Regions from separate parts of the Homo sapiens genome. Here region 1 is linked to region 2. Evidence: fine-mapped expression QTL. Tissue or cell type: whole blood. Region 2 holds a variant in brackets; the other region holds the start of a gene. All regions are shown on one strand. Distances are between the middles of the regions.

Region 1 (8,180 bases), 53 kb before region 2:
TGCTGGGATTACAGGCATGAACCACTGCACCCAGAGAAACTTGTTTAATCTTAAATGGGTCCTGTTAAGAACTCCTTCCTTCTCTTGTCACGCTTCAAGGCCCAGGAAAGACCTAGGCAAAACTCTTGGTGTGCTTTTGTTACCTTCCAGCCTTTGTATAAGGGCACTGGCTCTCTTAGCTTTTAATAGTTAGCTTAACCACTCAGTGCTGAAACAGTTGTTAGGGAGGCCTGCCTGTTCAGCCGTTAGGGAGACCTGGCCTGCCACAGAATGAGTAGGAGATGAGAGCACAGAGAGAACTAGTATAGACAGCTCTACTAAGAAGCTGGGCTGTGAGGAGTGGGTAGAGAAACCAGTGGCAACAGGACAAGGGTAGGAGAAGGGCAGAGTGAGGGTACCTGGCAGAAAGATGCAACAGCGGGCTAGAATCTGGCCAGGTTCTGCCTTCAAGCTGTTAACCTTGGACTGGGGCTGTGGCCTGAAGGAAGGGGTACTTATTTGAATGGGGTCAGCCCCCTTGCAATTCATCTGTCTGGAGGGGGCACTTTCTGATTCTCACAAGGGTACTGTATGTGTTAGCAGCAGCTATGCTAAAGGAGGATGCAAATAAATGGGACTTTAAAGAGAGAGAGATAGAGGAAGAAACAGAGAAAGAGATCAAACTGTTTAATTTTCACATCAGTGGAAATAATCTGGTTGAGAGGGTGTAGTTGAATAGGGAGGAGAAATGGTGATTGATAGGAGGGACCGGGGCCTACTCTATTGTACCACTCTATTGTGAAAAATGGATAGCAGATCTAGTAACTTAGATGTGATAGAAATCACTTAATAGAAAACAACTTTAATTCTGATTGAGTTTTCCTTCTGCTAGGATGACAGACCATTGATTGACCTTATTAATTCCTAGGGTTCCTCTACTCCCAAGGTTGTATGTACTCTTGATCTGGGGTCTTAGAATCATTGGGTTTTTGGCTCACCTAGTTGCCCTGAGATGTCTCCATCACTGTCACTTGACCCTTCTGCTGCTTCCAAGCTATGCCTGGGGCCCAGGAAGGTTTGGCACAGTGCCCCTGATCATCTCTGTCAAGCTGAACCATGTGGCCACTTCTCTTTGACTCCTGCTCTGCCCTGACACATTGCCAGGAAAAAGAGTTCAGGTGCCCTGGGCTGCAGGATCCATAGACTTCTCCCTTTGCCCACTCCTCCTAGCCTAAGGAAAATGTCTCAGTGGGGTTGGGGGCACTAGAGTGCTGCTGCTCTTTCTTTTGCTTCTCCAAAACATTTCGTCTAAGCCCTCACACCTTCTTTATATCAGCTAGCTTTTGCTACAAAACAAACCCCTAAAACTTACATCTATTATTTCTCACAATTTGGTGGGTCAGCTCAGTTAGGGCAGGAAGGTGTAGCACCTTTCTACTCTAAGTGTGGTCCTCAGACCAGGAGCATCAGAAGCACCCAGGAGCTTATTAGAAATGTAGTCTCAGGACCCAGTGCAGTGGCTCGTGCCTGTAATCCCAGCAATTTGGGAGGACGAGGCAAGAGGATTGCTTGAGGCCAGGAGTCCAAGACCAGCCTGGGCAACATAGCAAGACCCTACAATTTTTTTTTTTTTTTTTGAGATGGAGTCTCACTCTGTCGCCCAGGCTGGAGTGCAGTGGCACGATCTTGGCTCACTGCAACCTCTGCCTCCCGGGTTCAAGTGATTCTTCTGCCTCAGCCTCCCGAGTAGCTGGGACTACAGGCATGTGCCACCACACCTGGCTAATTTTTGTATTTTTAGTATAGATGGGGTTTCACCATATTGGCCAGGCTGGTCTCCAACTCCTGACCTCGTGATCCGCCTGCCTTGGCCTCCCAAAGTGCTGGGATTACAGGCGTGAGCCACCGCGCCCAGCCTAAAAAAAAATTTTTTTTAATTAGCCAGGCATGAGAAGGATTGCTTGAACCCAGGAAGTTGAAGCTGCAGTGAGCTATGATCACGCCACTGCACTCCAGCCTTCCACCAGCCTGGGTGACAGAGGGAGAGAAGACCCTGTCTATTTAAAAAAAGAAGAAGAAAGAAGAAAGAAGAAGGAGAAGAAGAAAGAAAAGAAATGTAGTCTCTCTGGCCCCACCCTAGGTGTAATGAATCATTTTCTGCTTTTTTTTTTTTTTTGAGATGAGGTCTCACTCTGTCACCCAGGTTGGAGTGCAGTGGCATGACCTCGGCTCACTACAATCTCCACCTCCTGGGCTCAAGTGATCCTCCCGCCTCAGCCTTCCAAGTAGTTGGGACTACAGGTGCACGCCACCATGCTTGGTTAACTTTTTTTGTGTTTTTGGTAGAGACGGGGTTTCACCATGTTGCCCAGGCTGGTCTTGAACTCCTAGGCTCAGGATACCCACCCGCGTCGGCCTCCCAAAGCGTTGGGATTACAGGTGTGAGCCACTGGGCCAGGCCCACTTTCTGCATTTTGACAGGAGCCTTCAAGCATTAAAGTTTGAGAAGCACTGGTCGAGGATCTATCTCCTTTCTCACCTGTCTGGCGGTCAGCAGGCTTGTTTGTCTGGGGGGTGGGGGGCCTCAGCTGGGAGGGCTTATTTTCTGAGCCATGTTGCTAACCCAGGCTTCTTCACGAGCCGATCTCAGGGTTCCAAAGAGCAGGATGAGGGCAATTCCCACAGCAGGAGTATTTTTCAAACCTTTGCTGTGTCATGTTTGCTACTGTCCCACAGGCCAATGCAAGCCACATGGTCATCCCAGAGTCAGTATGGGAAGGCATTGCCCAAAGGCAAAACAGAGGAGGGGAATACTTTGTGGTTATTTAAAAAACCTATCACACTTTCCACTATCAGAGTTGAGGCTTTTGGAGCGGAGGGCGGGGGGTGGGGGGAAGCGGGAAACACCAGCAACTATTTGCATTCTGCCCAGCCACACCTCTCCCCTCACACCAGCACAGAGCCACCTACTTGCTTAAAAGATGAGAGGAGGCCAGGCACAGTAGCTCAGGCCTGTAATCCCAGCACAAGGCCGAAGTGGGAGGATCACTTGAGCCCACGAGTTCAAGACCAGCCTGGGCAACATACAGACCCCGGTCTCTACAAAAAACAAACAAACAAACAAAATTAGCTGGGTGTGGTCCACATGCCTGTGGTCTCAGCTGCTTGGGAGGCTGAGGTAGGAAGATCGCTTGGGCTTGAGAGGTTGAGGCTGCAGTGAGTGGTGATAGTGCCACCGCACTCCAGCCTGGGTGACAGAGCCAGACCCTGTCTCAAAGCTTTTTAAAAAAGCCAGAGAGGAGGGAAAAGTGAAAACAGAAGGGAAAGTTGTAGATTAATATTGCAAAATCATATCCTTGCTATAAACGAGATGTGTACAGAGGTCAATGCATATATGAGTTTGGTAGTGGAAAAGTGAGAGATCGTCTAACATGGTTTCTTTATGAAGTAGGCAGTAAGGTCATGTGCTGAGAAGAGGTGGGTGGGGGAAGAGGGGTATCAGAAGTCTGAGGAGACTAGAGAAGGTTTGAAATCATCATAATGGAACTGGAGACTGGGAAGTGACATGAAGAACCTAAGATTTCAGCAACCATTTCAGGTTGATGATTATGAGGTTATCTTGATGCTGATCTGTTCTGTGGGCTCCCAAAGTGCTGAGATTACAGGCGTGAGCCACTGTGCCTGGCTCACACCTGTGGAGAAATGTTTCGCAGTGGTGTTTGCAGGCACAGAGAAAGCCAAAAGCAGGGTTTGGGGGATTTTGCTAGATGAGTAATGAAAAGGCAGAGGGCACGTGAGTTTAGCTTATTGGAGGGAGTGTTATTAAAATAATGGTATGGCATCTTTCAGCTGAATATGAAAAATTGAGAAGAAAGTGGGGGTGGTGGTCAAAAAGTGGAGGTTGGAGAATAGGGAAGATTTGAACAACTGGCTGGAAGAAGAGGGGAATTGTGGAAAGAAAACGAAATGCTTGAGTCAGTGGTTTCACAGGTGGAGTAGCTTCCGTGATGAAAAAGACCAGTGGAGAGCATTGCATATGTTCTCACTCTTCCAATTTGAACACCTTCCCCTGGTGGAGATAAGTAGATATGCTTTCTATGTTTTATTAACTTTACAACACCTTCCCCAAGCTGGTGAAAGGAAGCTCTCACTTCCTTATTCATTAGCCTGATGAAACAGAGCAAAATGTATCTTTTTTGGTTCTGTTTTGAATTTTAGTAACTCTAGTCTTCATCTGCCTGTTGGACTTCCTGTCTCTTTTTCATCTATCTTTGGGTACACATTTCTTCTTACGGGTCCTTTTAAACACCGAGCTCCTGAGAAAGGTCACCATTCTACCACTTTGATTCTGTAAATGTCTTTTGCTCATAGGTGTCAGAATAGGCTGGGTTATACTGTGGTAACAACCCCCAAATCTCGCAATCCCAGGAGGTACATGGGTACTAAGAATTATTCACATTTTACAAATGACCAAACTGGGCCCCAGAGTATTGGTAAAATGTGCAGAGCCCATCAGCTGGTGAAACCCTAAGGAACACAACACTTAGAATTTCACAAAGGCTAGACTTTATGAAATGTGCTGCGTGGATGCAGTAGTATCTCCAACCCCCCTGGACCGCTCTGCCACGTACAATCTTCTATCTTTCAGTCCGGAACTCAGTAACACCCACTCCAGGGCTGATGGGGGCGCTGGATGTATAGTGGCGAGTGTTTATCTGCCTAGGATAGCGATGGCTAGGCAGGGGACATAAAACAGAAGAGGCAGTGACCTTCTCCGGGTGGGGTCTATGGCCCTTTACTGGGTACATTCTGTACACACAGGCCCCTCCTTTGCCTGAAGTCATTGATGAAGACTTCATTACGGAGGGTTTGGGGAAAGGTGGGGGTCTGGCTGGGTAAGCCGGCGTCCCAGCCCCGCTACAGCCCCGCCCAGATCTGGCAGAGCCGTGGGCGAACCCAGGCGGGCAGAAAGGCGGGGCGGGCGGCTGCCAAGCCGGCCAATAGGCGGCTCTCCGGCTGCTAAGCCGAGAGGGCAGGGGCGCCGTCAGTAGCACCACCGCCTTCCAAGTTTCCCCTTGTGGATGCGCGGCCCCGCGGCTCTGCTCCTCCCGGCGCAGAGGGGCCGGGAGAGGCCACAGGAGCGGACCTGGCACGGGATTTCTGAGGAACGGGAGAAGACTGGCGCCCGACCCGCTCTGGAGGGTCGGTGAACGATGAAGGGCCGGCGGCGGCGACGCCGAGAGTACTGCAAGTTCGCGCTGCTGTTGGTGCTGTACACGCTGGTGCTGTTGCTCGTCCCCTCCGTATTGGACGGCGGCCGCGACGGGGACAAGGGCGCCGAGCACTGCCCCGGCCTGCAGCGCAGCCTGGGAGTGTGGAGCCTGGAGGCGGCGGCGGCCGGCGAACGCGAGCAGGGAGCGGAGGCGCGGGCCGCCGAGGAAGGGGGCGCGAACCAGTCTCCTCGGTTCCCAAGCAACCTCAGCGGCGCTGTCGGGGAGGCAGTGTCTCGCGAGAAGCAGCACATCTACGTGCATGCCACCTGGCGCACCGGCTCGTCCTTCCTGGGCGAACTCTTTAACCAGCACCCGGACGTTTTCTACTTGTATGAGCCCATGTGGCATCTATGGCAGGCGCTGTATCCGGGCGACGCCGAGAGCTTGCAGGGCGCGCTGCGCGACATGCTGCGTTCGCTCTTCCGCTGCGACTTCTCCGTGCTGCGGCTGTACGCGCCGCCGGGGGACCCCGCTGCGCGCGCCCCGGACACGGCCAATCTTACCACGGCCGCCCTCTTCCGCTGGCGGACTAACAAGGTCATCTGCTCGCCGCCACTGTGTCCTGGCGCACCCCGTGCCCGGGCCGAGGTGGGCCTCGTCGAGGACACCGCCTGCGAGCGCAGCTGCCCACCCGTGGCGATACGCGCCCTGGAGGCCGAGTGCCGAAAGTACCCGGTGGTGGTCATCAAGGACGTGCGCCTGCTCGATCTGGGCGTGCTGGTGCCCCTGTTGCGTGATCCAGGCCTCAACCTGAAGGTGGTGCAGCTTTTCCGCGACCCGAGGGCGGTGCACAACTCGCGCCTCAAGTCTAGGCAGGGACTGCTGCGCGAGAGCATCCAGGTGCTGCGCACCCGCCAGAGGGGCGACCGCTTCCACCGTGTGCTGCTGGCGCACGGCGTGGGTGCTCGCCCCGGGGGCCAGTCTCGCGCGCTGCCCGCCGCGCCGCGCGCCGATTTCTTCCTGACCGGTGCGCTCGAGGTGATCTGCGAAGCCTGGCTGCGCGATCTGCTTTTCGCGCGCGGCGCGCCCGCCTGGCTGCGGCGCCGCTACCTGAGGCTGCGCTATGAGGACCTGGTGCGGCAGCCACGCGCCCAGCTGCGCCGCCTGCTGCGCTTCTCCGGGCTACGCGCGCTCGCAGCGCTCGATGCCTTCGCGCTCAACATGACTCGCGGCGCGGCCTACGGCGCCGACCGGCCCTTCCACCTGTCAGCGCGCGACGCCCGGGAGGCGGTGCACGCCTGGCGCGAGCGCCTGAGCCGAGAGCAGGTGCGCCAGGTGGAGGCCGCCTGCGCTCCAGCCATGCGTCTGCTCGCCTACCCTCGCAGCGGAGAGGAGGGCGACGCGGAGCAGCCCAGGGAAGGGGAGACGCCGCTGGAGATGGATGCCGACGGCGCCACGTAGCCTCCCATCCCTGTCCCCGGCACGGATCCGGGTAAGGTGGCCCGGGGCAAGGCAGGGACCGGGACTGGTCTTCCGGGAGCCTGGAATGGCCTGGGGAGGGGGAAGTGTAGGGGGGAGGGTACCATGCTGGATCCCATTCTATCAGATCAGGTCCAAGAGGATGGGAAAGTCCTGCTCGTAGAATTTGGTAGATTCATCGGAATCTCCAGCTTAGCCTCGCGCCTCCTTAGAGGGAGATCCTGAGATGAGAGAGGATATTTAGGCGTGACTGAGGTGGAAGCCAGGTCTCTGCATTCCCATTCCCCTGTATGAAGTAGGAGGTTTCAGAGGGCTGAGGAGAGTAGAGAAGGTTTGAAACAGTCATAATGAGCCGTGAGACTGGGAATTGACATGTGGAGTATAGGATTTCGGAAACCATTTGAGGTTGATGATTATGGAGTTATCTTGATGCCAGTTTGTCCTGTGAGGAGACTTTGCAATGGTGTTTACAGGCACAGAGAAAGCCAAAAGCAGAGAGTTTGGTGGAAAGGCATTGATTCTAACCCTACCTATCCCTAATCTTTCTGTTTCATGTTTCTTCTCTGTCTGTTTTATGCGCAGGCTCCAGGGCTTTTCTCCTGAATTTCCAAACATGCAGGCACAGTCCAGCGGCTCTTGCAACACTTCTTGCACATTGTGTGTCTCAGGCGCTTGTGTAGTGAATAGACTTGCTTTCCCCTGGCTCATGTGCGCCTCTCTGTCTCCCCTCCCCCTCCTTCCCTCTCTCATTTCCCCTCTCCCTCTCTTCCTCTTCCTCCCCCTTCCCCTCCTCCTCTCCCTTCCCCCTTCTCCCTGTAGCTGGCGTTTGCAGGATATTTGACCATATCCCATTCACATCAGGTCACAAAAGCTGCCTGGTCAGCTTCCTCTAGTGTCGACAAGACCTCAGGGTTGGGTGTCCCCCACTCCACCCCATCCGTTTGACAGATGGAGCCTTCAATTGGCAGTAGCAGTTTGTGACTGCAGGAGGAGCTTTGTGAAAAGACACTGCCCCCTCTTTTTTGTTTTTCCATTTTTGTTTTTTGTTTTTTTCTGTATATCTGAAGATGCTAAAGTGGGGCTTAAACAGTCTCAAAATGTGTTCTGTGTGGGTCAGTGTATGGCCTGAGGGAAGGGTTTGTTCTGCACAGTGCTGACCATAGGAGTCTACTTAGTGACATGGGAGTGTGTTTCCCCAAACTTTATGTGAGTTGGAAGGGTGCCGCCTTCTGCACTGTGCAGTCAGTCCAGAGGAGGAGGAAAAGTAGTGCTGGGTGGGCGGAAGTGAGTTAAGTTTCCATTCATTATTTTATAGTGTAATTCAGCATTCCCCTGAGATGAAGCTCTGAGGACAAACGTTGAAGATATTAATGAAGAGGGATTTTGTTGTTGTTACAGAACCAGGGTTTCAGAGTGATTTCAGAAGCTGGCTAACTAATTTTTCTCCCAGTAATCAAATGGTTTTCTTAGTCAGTTTCTGAAATTGCTAGGAAGTCTGTGTTCTTTCCT
Region 2 (8,180 bases):
AGAAGCAGCACAGTTAATATAAAACTCAGACTGACTGCAGCAATTTGAGGGTACTACTAGGGCTGTGCAAGCACAGACTGCTTGTGAAGCTATTATTATCATCATTCTCTTTAATATTACAGGGAGAGGCAACTCTGCAAGTGAGGGACAATTGACAATCACCAAATACAACTTGAACCAAAATTACAAGTAGTTTTAAATCATGGTGAATGTAAATTCTACCCGCAATGGCAACATCAAATAATTAATCAAAGATCTTTGAGAAGCACATAGACAAGAGAAGGAGAGAAATTAGCAAGCACTATTTATTAATACACTCCTAAAGTTTCCAACAGCAAAGATTATTTTTAAAAATTGAATCCCCTCGGTATTTCAGGAATGTTTAGTGATGGATATGGAAATGGCTCAGTTAAATGGGCCCTTCTGTGGATGAGGAAATATAAACAAGGAGAGACCCCAGAGACCAATTTGATTTTACATTTTTATAAATCATGAGCAAGAGAGAGAGCACAGAAATGCCTCCATTTGCAGGGTGACTGATTGCTAACCCAATGACAACTCTGGGAAGATTCCAAAATGCCACATGACTGAGTAGAAAAGTAGCAGATGACTTTTTTGATAGGCAAATATATAATGGAAAAAATCAAATGGTTCTTTATAAAGTAATAGGCTCTAAGTTCTCAGTTCTAAGTGCCTGTAGAATTTTACTAAGGAAAAAGCCAGCACAACGATAAACATCATCAGGAAGGATACTATTAAACCATCAGGCACAAAACGAGTACCCCAAAGTCAGTTTCTTCCGCTTCTTCCCTTAAATCAATGATGAAAACAATGAACCCTACTCTGTCATCTTAACCTCTGCAAAACCACAAAGCATTTATTATCACTGGACTACTTAATTTCTTGCCATTTAATCTCAAGAAAGCTACAAGAACCCCGGAAGTTAAAAGTTAAATTTAAAAAAAGAAAGCTACAAGAGACTTATATAAGCCCCAAAAAAGACAATTAAAATGAGTAAAGCAAGGGAATGGTTTGACAGCAAACTAACAAAAGGTCTTCTCAGGCTACGGAAAGATATGCCTGCAATCCATGAATAAGATAAAGTGACCTCAGACTCCACAGCAAATCCCGAAATGTAAGAACTAAGAAACAACGCTTAGAGGCTACAAGGGGTAAATTCAGGACAAATCAAAGGTGTAACTTTGTGAAAAGGGTGTTAAACAACTTCTTATTCCAAGAGATGGTGCCAGAAGCATGATTAGGTATAGGAAGAACTTAGATAAATCCACATATGGTGGCTTTGGGGAAATCAGGGCAGTTCTGTGGGACAGAACTAATTTTTTAAAGCTGACCCGGAAGACAAGCAATAACTGCTTCATGACATGATTGGGGCTGCTGTCACAGAGAAGCCATTGAGAGCCCTTCCTGTGGGCTCCGAACAGCACCGGACTGAGGAAGGGTCACTGTGGGAACAGGCGGAGCCTCCTTCCTGGCTGTACTTGGCGACTCTTGGATTTTCCACTCCTGTGCCGTCCACAGAAAAAGCACAGACTTGCTCTCTCAACTCGCCCCTCCTCAAAACCTGGGTTCGCACCTCATGTCTTCAGCTCAGGCAACTTCTAGGGCCTGGAGCATTCTTTTTTCCTCTCACCTTCTCCCACCCAGAACACCTACCCGGCCAACCTCTATTCACCTTTCAAGCCTGTGCAGAAGCGTGGCTTCTCTAAGAAATGTTTCAAAAGCGACATAGCACTCCAAGAAGTGTAGGTGTGGATATCACAGGCTCTCTCAAGAGACTATCTGGCTCCTGACTGTGCCGCTGCCATTGTCTTGCTGTGTGATGCTGGGCAAGTTACCTAACCTTTCTGTGCTTCAGTATCCTCATCTGTAAACTGGAAATATTAATAATTACCTACCTCTAGGGGCATTATGAGGCTGTAATGTTGTGATAGAACAAGAAATATATATCTGGTTTTTGTCTGACATAAAACTCCTAAAACCCTTGGAATTTCCTGAGTAGATGGGGTGGGAGGAACATCTTTTTTTATTAATAATAAGCTCCTTTCAAGCACACCTGAATTTATGCTAATAAGGTGACTCTTGAATGGACACTGATTGCCAGAGAAACCAACCATGTAATTAGAGGATTGGAACTTTTAGCCCCATCCCAACCTCCTAGGAGGGGAGGACTGGGGATTGAGTTAATTACCAATGGCTACTAATTTAATCAACCATGCCTATGTAATGAAACCTCCATAAAACCCTAAATGACACAATTTGGAGGGCTTCCAAGTTGGCGCCACATACTCCCATCCCCATCCTTTGCCCTATGCATCTCTTCCATTAGGCTATTTCCGAGTTGTATCCTTTATAACAAACTGGTAATGGTAAAAGTTGTGTTCTGTGAGTCATTCTAGCAAATTATCGAACCTGAGGAGGGGTTGGGAACCCCCCCCTATAGCCAGTCAGTCTGAAGTACAGGTCACGACCTGGGACTTGCAACTGGTGTCTGAAGTGGGGACAGTCTTGTGGGACTGAGTCCTTAACCTGTGGGATCTGACGCTAACTCCAGGTACGTAGTGAGTTAAACTGTAGGAGGTCCAGTTGGTACTCATTGGGAATTGGAGAACTGGCTGGTATACAAAAAGACCCTACATATTTGGCATTAAAAGTGGTGTGAATGTAGAGAAAATAGGTTTTAATTTTAGAACTGTAAAAGATTTTTCATTTAAAGAACTTAGGATGGTGTCTGATATGTGGCAAGCACTCAACAAATATTGACTCATTATTGTTTGCCATGTGACTTTTTGTGCTGATTAAATATTTGTGAAATATTTAACCCAGAATCTGGCATGTAGTTAGAGCTCATATTACTAATTAAGTTCATTTCCAAAGACTGGATATGTAATTTCAAGCACATATTTGTTTGGGGGAAAAAAACGCCTAGCCATTAACATCATTTGGCTATCTTGTGTGGCTTTTTACACAAGGAATTTTCATCTTTTTACTGCCATTATTAATAGAGAAGCCCCTTCAAGAAAATACCACCAACCCTGCTTATTATCATTTTTTGAGCATGTAACAATGAGTGTCTATTTCTTCTGCATTCATTAAGCACCTACTATGTGCCAGGCACCATGCTGGGTGCTGGAAACACAAAGAGGAATGTAACTTAGCACCTGGGCCTCAAGGAGCACTCTTTCCAGAAGGTGAAGGTGGCGAGGGTTGGGGGGTAGGGGGAGGGGAGACAGACAAATACATATTGACTGACAAATATAATGAAGAAAAAGAAAGCTGATTAAAGAACTGGGGAATAGCAAACAGTCCTATTTTTGAAATAATTTTTCTAGAATGAATGCATAATGATATCTGTGTAGAGTTACATTTCATTCCATTCTTATATAATATTAAAAGATGTTTTTAAAAGATAAGGTCATTACACTAATAAGAACAGCTTACTTTTTTTTTTTTTTTCAGGGATGGAGCATGTGGTAGGCAGAATAATGGCCACCCCACCAAAGCTTTCTACAGCCTAATCCCTGGATCCTGTTACACTACCTGGCAAAAGGCTTTGTGGATGGACTTAAGGTTATCCAGGTAGGCCCAGGACAATCACGTGGGCCCTTAAAAGTGGACAAGGAGGGCCAGGCATAGTGGCTCACGCCTGTAATCCCAGAACTTTGGGAGGCTGAGGTGGGCAGATCACTTGAGGTCAGGAGTTCAAGACCAGCCTGGCCATCATGGCGAAACCCGGTCTCTACTGAAAATACAAAAATTAGCTGGGTGTGGTGGCACACACCTGTAATCCCAGCTACTCAGGAGGCTGAGGCACAAGAATTGCTTGAACCTGGGAGGTGGAGGTTGCAGTGAGCTGAGATCACATCACTGCACTCCAGCCTGGGCAATAGAGCAAGACTGTCTCTCTCTCAAAAAAAAAAAAAAAAAAAAAGGACATGGAGGGCAAAAGAGTCAGAGGAAGGAATGCAGTAGAAGAAAGGGCGGGAGAGATTCAGAGCTTGACTTGCCCCACTGTTGCTGGCTTTGCAGCAAGAACACAGGACCTCAGTCCTACAACCACATGGAACTGAATTCTACTGACAACCTGAATGAGCCTGGAAGTGGCTTCTCCCCAGAGCTTAGCCTTGCCAACACCTTGAAAAACTTGAAGCAGAGAAACCAGCTGAGCCCACCAGGTATCTGATCTACTGAACTGTAAGGATGACAAAACTGTATTGTTTTGGCTGGGCATGGTGGCCCATGCCTATAATCCCAGCACTTTGGGAGGCCAAGACAGGCAGATCACTTGAGCCAAGGAGTTCAAGACCAGCCCCAACATGGTGAAACTCTGTCCCTTAAAAAAAAACAAAAACAAAAACAAAACTTTATTGTTTTAAGCCACTAAATTTGTGGTAATTTGTTACAGCAGTCACAGACAACTAATATGGAGCAGAAGAGTAAATAAATGATGTCACTTGATTTGGGCCTGATATGCTTTTTTTCTTTTTCGGACATGGAGTCTCGCTGTGTCACCCAGGCTACAGTGCAGTGGTGTGATCTCGGCTCACTGCAACCTCCGCCTCCCGGGATCAAGCGATTCTCCTGCCTCAGCCTTCCAAGTAGCTGGGATTACAGGTGCCTGCCACCATGCCCAGCTAATTTTTGTATTTTTAGTAGAGATGGGGTTTTGCCATGTTGGCCAGGCTGGTCTTGAACTCCTGACCTCAGGTGATCCACCTGCCTTGGCCTCCCGAAGTGCTGGGATTACAGGTGTGAGCCACCACGCCCGGCCTGGGCCTGGTATGTTTGGGCTCTGTGTACCCCCACAAGTCTCATCTCAAGTTGTGATCCTAAGCGTTGGAGGTGGGGCCTGGTAAGAGGTGGCTGGATCATGGGGGCAGACTTCCCCCTTGCTGTTCTTGTGATAGTGAGTGAGTTCTCAC[G/A]AGATCTGGTTAAAAGTGTGCGGCACTTCCCCCTTGCTCTCTCTCTCTCCTGCTCCGCTATGGTAAGATGTGTTTGCTTCCCCTTTGCCTTCACTATGATTGTGCGTTTCCTGAGGCCTCCCAGCTATGCTTCCTGTACAGCTTGCAGAACTATGAGTCAATTAAACCTTTTCTTCATAAATTACCCAGCCTCAGGTGGTTCTTTATAGAAGTGTGGGAATGGACTAATACAGGGCCTTTGTCATATCATTGGGATAATGGATCCAAGATTTCTCAGCAGAGGGTAATAATAGGGTTTAGAAACAGGGAATCAGCCAGGCAGTGGGCTCATGCCTGTAATCCCTGCACTTTGGGAGGGTTAAGATCACTTGAGCCCAGGAGTTTGAGACCAGCCTGTGCAACAAAGCAAGACCCTGTCTCTAGAAAAATATTTTATAAATTAGCTTGGTGAAGTGGCACACACCTGTGGTCCTAGCTACTCAGGAGGCCGAGGGAGGAGGATCCCTCGGGCCCAAGAGGTCAAGGCTGCAATGAGCTGTGATTGCACCACTGCACTCCAGCCTTGGCGTCAGAGGGAAACCCTGTCTCAAAACAAAACAAAAAAAAAACCAGAGTCAAATCTCTGACCGTGATACACAGATAGTTTTCTTCCCTGCTTAAAACTCTCCAGAGCTATACATTGCCTAGATCAGGGCTTTTCTAATGGTAAAATGTACACACATTCCCTGGAGACACTGTTAAAATGCAGATTCTGCTTCAGTGGGGCTGGTGAGGCCTGAGTGTCTCCACTCTCTTGCTTCTGCCACTCTCCACCCTCACCCTTTATCACCTTGTCACCAAGCCCTTCAGGATGCAGATTCATCTACCTTGTTGCAGATATTTTCCCAGAACCTGAAAGAATGCCTGAAATAGAACAGGTGCTCAATAACTATTTGTCAAATAAATGAATAAATTGATCTTGACTCTGAGTTTTTAGAAAACAGAAAAGGAAGAGCAGAAAGGGAAATCAGGGGCCAAGGGAGGCACTTGGAAGCACAAAAAAATGGGCGGGTTGGGGGGGGGGCGGTGGTCACAGAGTAGCAACTGGAGGAAAGGCACCTCTGCAACTGTTTGAAGTTAAAGATTTAGGTGACAGATTTACGGGTATCAGATTTCAGCCTGGAGAAACAAAAACAAACAAAAAAAAACACGGAGGACCCAGAAACAAATGATTCTAACTTGCTCAGAAAGTCATATGTGAACGCAACAATAAACTGCTGATTTTCTACAGTTTTCACTACATACACACAGACAGACACGCACACACGTGTGCATATACACAGGCATTGGTGGTTTCCTTTCCTCCACACTCCATTAATATCCGGCTTGTGACCTTGTCCTGTTGATATGGTGAAACTGGGATAAATTCAGATTCACACTCTTAGCTGCTCCAAAGTGGCCTCATCAATGAGTGCTCTTCTGTAAACTCAGGGAAGGAAGTGAATGATGTGTCTGCATGTACGGCCAACAGAAATCTCAGCTGTCTGGTCTGGCATGAAAAGTCCCCTGCTTTATCGGGGTGGGAGGCCACCCCCAGGGCTGGGCAGCTTGCCTCCAGCTAGGGTTGTTTTTGTTTTGGTTGCAAAGTCACCAAGACCTCCAGAGAAACAAAGCACTGAGTTTTGTTTTTTGTTTTTTGTTTTTTTTGTCTTGTTTTGTTCTAATGAGTCAAACTTACCAGGGGACACAAAGCTGAAGTCTGCCCACAATATTTTTATGCTTTCCCCACATGAAGCAAAGTTCTAGCCAACAGCTCCCTTCCTTTTCCCACATGAGCTAATATTCTGTAGCTCCCTAGCCATGACTCTGTTTATAGCCTTGGGCTTCAAGACCAGTGAGGAGAATTGTGCTCATTATAAGACATGCCTTCCCATCAAATGTCACTTTTTTGTTTGTTGTTTTTAGGAAGATTATTTAGAAAATGAGGTAAAGAGAACCGCCCTTTTTTTTCTCTGGTGGAGAACAAACATCTGGACTTTCCCTACCTCTGATTTCAGTTTCATGACAACACTGAGCATGTGACCTGGATCTATTTCAGGGGAAACTGCAAGAACCCAGGGTTTCACCCAAAAATGAGAAGCCCATTTATTTCTGTTTTCCTGTTTCTCATGGCCACAGAGTGCACTGAGCCCTGCTGTTAGTGGCTCACTAGAATGAGGAGGTCAGACCAGGAGGAACTGGAGAAATAAGGTCCTCTCTGCACAAGGGCGTGAGTCATTTCTAAGAGGGTGTCCTGGAGAACCAAGCTTGAAGTTTGCATGTTTTTCCCCATATGACAGCAATCTTGAAAACCTTTCAAAAGGTCAGTGGAACTGACTTTGAGGGGCCCTCTGCATGACTGTGTATGAGGTCTGGAAGGAAGGAGGTCAGGGGGAAGCTGTGACACAGCTTCTGGCTAGGGCTGTGGCAAACAGGGTGCCATTAGGAGTGCAGCGCGAGTGGCTGCCAGCCCGTTCACAACACCACATGTGCGGTGCTCTCAGCCCAAGGGGCCCTCTGGGAGCTGACAGGAACACTGAGTTCATCCATCCAGGCCCATCCAGGGAGGTTCCTGAGACTCACTCCACCTGGGGGTGGGGGCTATTTTAGCTGTTACTGCATGGACTAAATACAAGAACCCTCAGCACTTTGGACCTGCTGCTTTCTCACTCAAACATTTCCACAGAAAAGTGACAGTAAGCTTGTTACTGAATCTAATTACAAGCCCAGTGTTCCCAGTGCGCAGGGCTCATGTGATACATAGTAAGTTCTACTACATGACCAGCCAAATCCTTTCACTTATTTCCTGTTACAGATGCTTGAATGCAGAGGTAGGAGCAATGGGAAACAGCAAAGGGGGTGGGGATGTTTTGAATGGTCCAGAGCAAGATGAAATCTCTCCAAATCTTATGATCCAGCTGCTATTGGCCTTTTTTTCTTACAAAATTAATCTAGACTGGCCACAGTTCTGTGGAGGATGCTTTAGAATAGGGCAGCCATGTCCTACCAGAGCCATTATCTTTCCTTTGGTGAAATAAGGACGGCCATCATGTTTTCCCCTGGGGTTTTCTCAGGCTGAGTTTCAAGATCTCCCAAACTGTTATACTCTAAATTAGCCTCGAGGTGCTCAGTTCCTGAACTCCTGTTTTCTAAAGTCCTTAATCAAAGCTAGAGTCAAATAGCAAATTTTCAAAGAGAACTCACTGAGACCACATGCTCCCA

Which allele goes with the higher level. Alleles are on the strand shown, and positions count from the first base shown. SD is a standard deviation of normalised expression in the study named.
In carriers of allele G in region 2, the expression in whole blood of the gene that starts at base 5,026 in region 1 tends to be lower than with A alone (small effect, 0.23 SD a copy in GTEx).

Evidence for each region. PIP is the estimated chance that this variant, and not a neighbour inherited with it, causes the effect.
Region 1: it holds the start of CHST7, and the variant in region 2 is fine-mapped to the expression of CHST7 in whole blood (TOPMed, PIP above 0.99). The same link has a PIP of 0.9 or more in blood mononuclear cells and monocytes.

What each region holds. Positions count from the first base shown.
Region 1 is chrX:46,568,740-46,576,919 of GRCh38, forward strand. It overlaps CHST7 (carbohydrate sulfotransferase 7), which reads left to right and starts at 5,026. Exons shown (of 2, transcript NM_019886.4): 1 at 5,026-6,684. The coding sequence starts at 5,193. The coding sequence ends at 6,653. RefSeq lists silencers at 6,044-6,093, 6,214-6,273.
Region 2 is chrX:46,621,786-46,629,965 of GRCh38, forward strand. The region is part of intron 14 of SLC9A7 (solute carrier family 9 member A7); the gene reads right to left. It overlaps LOC124905182 (a long non-coding RNA gene), which reads left to right. Exons shown (of 2, transcript XR_007068222.1): 1 at 1-2,572; 2 at 3,478-5,121. Among named protein-coding and RNA genes, the nearest start is that of CHST7, 52 kb to the left of the region's middle. The variant G/A (reference allele first, on the strand shown) is at 4,941.